Regions from separate parts of the Homo sapiens genome. Here region 1 is linked to region 2. Evidence: fine-mapped expression QTL. Tissue or cell type: putamen. Region 2 holds a variant in brackets; the other region holds the start of a gene. All regions are shown on one strand. Distances are between the middles of the regions.

What was found. PIP is the estimated chance that this variant, and not a neighbour inherited with it, causes the effect.
Region 1: NIPA1 starts here. The variant in region 2 is fine-mapped to the expression of NIPA1 in putamen (GTEx, PIP 0.98).

The regions. Positions count from the first base shown.
Region 1 is chr15:22,785,297-22,787,941 of GRCh38, forward strand. It overlaps NIPA1 (NIPA magnesium transporter 1), which reads left to right and starts at 1,348. Exons shown (of 5, transcript NM_144599.5): 1 at 1,348-1,538. The coding sequence starts at 1,361. RefSeq lists silencers at 1,020-1,253, 1,216-1,575, 1,646-1,795, 1,806-1,935 and an enhancer at 2,286-2,395.
Region 2 is chr15:23,164,521-23,167,362 of GRCh38, forward strand. It overlaps the pseudogene GOLGA8DP and the pseudogene RN7SL106P. Among named protein-coding and RNA genes, the nearest start is that of GOLGA6L1, 29 kb to the left of the region's middle. The variant C/T (reference allele first, on the strand shown) is at 1,711.

The sequences.
Region 1 (2,645 bases), 380 kb before region 2:
TGCCAAGATGGTGAAACCGCGTCTCTACTCAAAATACAAAAATTAACCCGGGCGTGGTGGCGGACGCCTGTAATTCTAGATACTCGGAGGCTGAGGCCGAGAATCGCTTGAATCCGGGAGGCGGAAGGTTGCAGTGAGCCGAGATCGCGCCATTGCACTCCAGCCTGGGCGACAGAGCGAGACTCTGTCTCAAAAAAACAAACCAACCTGGTAGCTACCTAACACCCAACAATGGCTGAATGGTTAGACAAATTATTATACTGTCATTAGAATAATCATATTTATGTACCGATACAGAAACTGATATATATTAAATAAAAAGGAAATTTCGTATATTGTAATTGGAAACATGTAAAAGTATGTATACATTATGGGAAAACACCTAAAATACTAATAATTAGGTGAGGGTTGTGGAATTGAGTCACTTTAAAAAATATTTTTTTCCAAAAAAAATAAAATAACTTTTTCCTATTTTTCAAGCTTGTAATTTTGTTGTTGTTTCTTTTTTTTTTTTTTTTTGAGACGGAGTCTCGCTCTGTCGCCCAGGCTCGAGTGCAGTTGTGTGATCTCCGCTCACTGCAAGCTCTGCCTCCCGGGTTCACACCCTTCTCCTGGCTCAGCCTCCCGAGTAGCTGGGACTACAGGCCTCCGCCACGACGCCCAGCTAATTTTTTGTATTTTTAGTAGAGACGGGGTTTCACTGTGTTAGCCAGGATGGTCTCGATCTCCTGACCTTGTGATCCACCCGCCTCGGCCTCCCGAAGTGCTGGGATTACAGGCGTGAGCCACCGCGCCCGGCTTGTTGTAGTTTATTAAAACGAGGAAACTAGACTATGGGATCACAAGCCCAGAGCCCCATGTAGCTGACTCTAGCGCCAAGGGCGGAAGAGAAACGCCCAGCGCCAGGGCTCTCCTTCGATCTCTGCAGCGGCGCGCCGGGCTTCGCGCTCCGGTGAGTTGGGCCGGCCTCCGCTGGAGGCTCTTCGGGGACCGCTGCCCGCCGGTGCGTCCTGCCGCGCTCCGCTGCCCGGATATTGCAGAGGACACCACTCAGAAAGTATGCGTGTTTCTCCGCGCTGGAAACTTAACCAGGAGTCCTGCATTTCCATTTGCGAAATCCGGGAACCCCCGCCCCACCCAGCGCCTCACCGGCCCCTCACTGCCGCCGCGTCCGGCGCCACTGCTGTCCCCGCAGCCTAAGGCGCCGGTCCCTGGCACCCCCGTCCCGCCCCCGCCCCTCTTCCTGCTCCTCCCCCACCCGTCCCCCTCCCCTCCCCCGCCCGCGCCTCCCGGTCACCCCCCATCCCGCCCCGCGGGGCGCGGCGCGCAGGCGCAGGCTCGGAGGGCGGGCGCGGGCGGAATGGGGACTGCAGCTGCGGCAGCGGCGGCGGCGGCGGCGGCGGCGGCCGGGGAGGGGGCGCGTAGCCCGAGCCCCGCCGCCGTGTCGCTCGGCCTGGGCGTGGCCGTCGTGTCGAGCCTGGTGAACGGGTCCACGTTCGTGCTACAGAAGAAGGGCATCGTGCGTGCCAAGCGGCGAGGTAGGGCGGGCGGCAGGCGGCAGGCGGCGGGCGGGTGGGGGAGGCGGGCGGCGGAGAAGGCGGTCGCAGGTGGGGGCGCCCGGGTCGGGGCAGGGGACGGGGTCGGGGCCCGGGCCCAGGTTGGGGGAAGGCTGCGCGGGCGGGTGCTCCCCGCGGCGTGCCCAGGCTGCCGCCGCGTCCTGGCGCTCGGGCCCGGGAGCGGCCCAGGAATCACAGGTGCGTCCTGAGCGTCCGGCGCTTCGCCGACGCCACGGCTTTTCTCCGTTCTCAGCGGCTGGAGCGGCTTGCTTTGGTGTGCGGGCTTCCCCGGCTGACTTTTTCCCTCGGTCCAAGACCTGCCCCGCGCCGCCCGGCAGCCCTCGCCGTGGCCCGCAACCCGCGGCCGGGAGCCTCCTGCGGACGCGGTGCTGGGGTGCTCGAGCCCAGCGCCCGCCTGGAAGCGCCGCTTCAGCCGATGCGCGGCCCGCTCCTAGGGTACGCTCGGTAGAGCAAGACCTGGGATTTCCAGTCCCCCGCAGGGGCCTCGCTGGTGCAAAAGGAAGACCCGGGCGGGCTCTCAGGGCTGTGCGTTCCTGGGGTGCTCTTACGGAGCCCGCTGCGCCTTAGACCTGCACCAAATGAATACAAGTGATCTTCAGTTTGGAGAACACGCGCGGCAGATCCAAAACCAAGCCCTGGACGGGCCAAGGCCACTTCCCAGGTGGATGTGCCGCAGCACCGCACTCCGTAGTGCTCTGCGGGGTAGAGCTCTCTGTCAGTGTCGTTTGTGCTGGGAGGCCCCGGACGGGACCGGTTTGCCAATGCAGGATATGGCAGGCTGTGAAACAGTCCGTTTCCATTGCTTCCAGAGGGACTGAGAAAGTCTTGTGGTTCTTGGCCATACTCTTAGAAGAAGAATATTAAGAGCTCTCTGGGAAGGATGTGGCCCCCGACTCTTGGGTTGTGAGAGAAAGTGAACTCGTAATTTACATGGCGGAATGCAGGTGAAACTTTCTCTGAGTGAGCCAGGCGTTGGCTTCAGAGAAGAGATAAAGGGCCCGACAGTCTCGAATGAAAATATAAAATCATGGATAATTTAAGGAATTTAGCTTTAAAGTGAAAGCATAG
Region 2 (2,842 bases):
GGGGGCAGGTGACCCCAGCACCCTCCAGGGCAGTCCTGTGGCTGTTTCTTGCTTCCTGCCCTCTGATTTTAGAGGTGGGTAGCCCTGGGCTCCTCCCAGGTCTGGACATCATCATTCCAGCTAGAGACATGGAGCACCCCCAATCACAGGGGAAGAGACAGAGTGGTATAACAGTCTTCTTATGCCAGACGCGGTGGCTTACGCCTATAGTGCCAACACTTTGGGAGGCTGAGGCAGGAGAATCACTTGAGGTTTGGAGTTTGAGATCAGCCTGGCCAACATGGTAAAACCTCATCTCTACTAAAATTACAAAAACAAAAAACAAAAAAAGAAAGAAAAATTAGTGGGGCATGGTGGTGGCGCATGCCTGTAATCCCACCTACTCAGGAGGCTGAGGCACGAGAATTGCTTGAGCCCAGGAGGTGGAGGTTGCAGTGAGCTGAGATTGCACCACTGCACTCCGGCCTGGGCCACAGAGTGACACTCTGTCTCAAAACAAAACAAAAAGACTCCTTAGATTAAAACTGGATTCCAGCCTCAGTTCCACTGGTCACCATTCAAGTACTTCACATCTCTAAGTCTCTGTTTCTTTAACTTCAAAAGGAAGTTAGCATTTTCCTTACAGAGGTGCTGAGGATTAAATGAGATAATACATGGGAAGCATTAGGCCTGTAGCACATTTAGCAGATGGTGGTTGGCTCCCACTACTTTTCTACCATTCTGTGGCCTACAGTTGAAATGGTGGGAAGAGGACATGAGATTTGAGGCTGGGGAAGGAGGCATGGGGTTCTAGGAAAGGGAGGCAGTCACTTAGGCCTGGAGTAAGGGGCCAGGGGCCTGGGCAGGCGACAGAGCCCCACAGTGCCCTCGCTACCCTATTAATGGGCCCAGAATCTGGAAACCAGCCACCACGTGCCCTCACACCCAGGGTCTTCCTGCAGGTGGAGCTGAAGAGCCAAGAGGCTCAGAGTCTGCAGCAGCAGCCAGACCATTACCTGGGTCACCTGCAGCAGTACGTGGCCACCTATCAGCAGCAGGTGGCCGCCTATCAGCAGCTGACCTGTGAGAAGGAGGCGCTGTACAGGCAGTGACTGCAGCAGACCCAGCTAATGAACCAGCTGCAGCAGCAGGAAGCTTGGGGCAAAGCGGTGGCCGAGATGGCCTGCCAAAAGTTGCAGGAGGCCCAGGGGAGGGAGCTGCCGAGGATGGGGCCGTGAGGGGGACGACCTGGCAAACTCTGTGCCTTCTCACTCTTTCCTGGCCCCTTAGGAGCGTCTGGAAGCTGCCAGCCAGCAGAAACAGCAGCTAACGGCCCAGTTGAGCCTCATGGCTCTCCCTGGGGAAGGTACGGGAGACCGCTCAGAGGAAGAGGAGAGAGCCCCAGGAGGAAGGGGGGACTGCTAGCAGCATAGGATTGAGGAGTTGGAAGAGACCTTTAGAACAGCTGGTCATTATACTAACCGGGTGCCTGCACTAAGTTCAGCATCAATATGGTGACCTCCTGTGAGCGGGGGGCCACCAAGTTGCCTAAGGATGGCTGAACTGGCCGAGGTCAGAAAGGGAGCAGGTCAGAACTCCCGCACCGACCAGTAGTGGGAATGTGCCTGGGCAGTATAGCAAGATCTTGGTTCTTCAAAGTAAAAATAAATAACAGCAGCTCATTCCTCTCTGGGGAGGGCCTGGCTCAGGGTTACACAATGAGGGTGGAGG[C/T]AGAGGTGGGCCCACAATACTTCCCTTGTTGAGTTGTCTGAAGACCCCTCTGGCCACCCCCCACAGGACACGGAGGAGAACATCTGGACAGTGAGGGGGAGGAGGCACCTCGGCCCATGCCGAGTGTCCCAGAGGACCTGGAGAGCAGGGAGGCCATGGTGAGCCTGACTCCCCCTGCACCCATTTTGCCACCTTTCTCTGTGGTCCCTCCAAGACCCCTTTATGCTCTTCGTTTCCCTGCCTTCTGATTTCTCTGGACCCTCACCCCTTCCGAGAGCCAGTGGTCAGACACCATTTCACCTGTGACCAACATGTGCAGTCTCTGGGGCCCCAAGGGAAGGGGCTGCGCTCCACCTCTCTGCCCCATTTCTTCTGTGTATGCCCCTAGAAGAATGCTCACATCTTGCCCTCAGGTGGCATTTTTCAAGTCCGCTGGAGCTAGTGCCCAGGAGAAGCAGGCACAGTTACAAGAGCAGGTGAAAGAGCAGAGGGTGTGCTGCCAGCGCCTGGCTCACCCGGTGGCCTCGGCCCAGAAGGAGCCAGAGGCAGCGGTCCCAGCCCCAGGGCCTGGGGGCGAGTCTGTGAGTGGGGAGACCCACCGGGCCCTGCAGGAAGTCATGGAGAAGCTGGCCCATGCCGGAACTCACCTCCGCCTTCTCCATGACTTGAAAATGCCACCTGAGGGCAGGTCGCTGGCGAGATGTGACCCCATTATTTTGGCTCCAGAGCGGCTTTATGGACCACCTGGAGGAGAAGGCAGACCTGAGTGAGCTGGTGGAGAAAGAAGAACTTGGATTCTTCCAGTACTACAGAGAGGGATGCCATCAGTGAGTGGGAGGCCAGGGCATGGCAGGGGGAGCTGCAGGGCTGTTGGAGGGGCCCCAGCGTCTGAGCCCTGTCCTCCCGCAGGAAAGTTTATCACCCTATAACAAAGCCAGGGGGCAGTGCCAAAGATGCAGCACCGGGAGGAGGACACCATCAGGCTGGCCCTGGACAGGGAGGAGATGAAGGTAGAGTGTGCAACATCTCTGCGGGGGTGGGGGTGGCTGTGACGGTGAGCGCTGGCAGCAGCGTGACAGCTGAGCACCCCTCCCTCCAGGTGAAGCTGCTGGAGCTGCAGGAGATGGTGTTG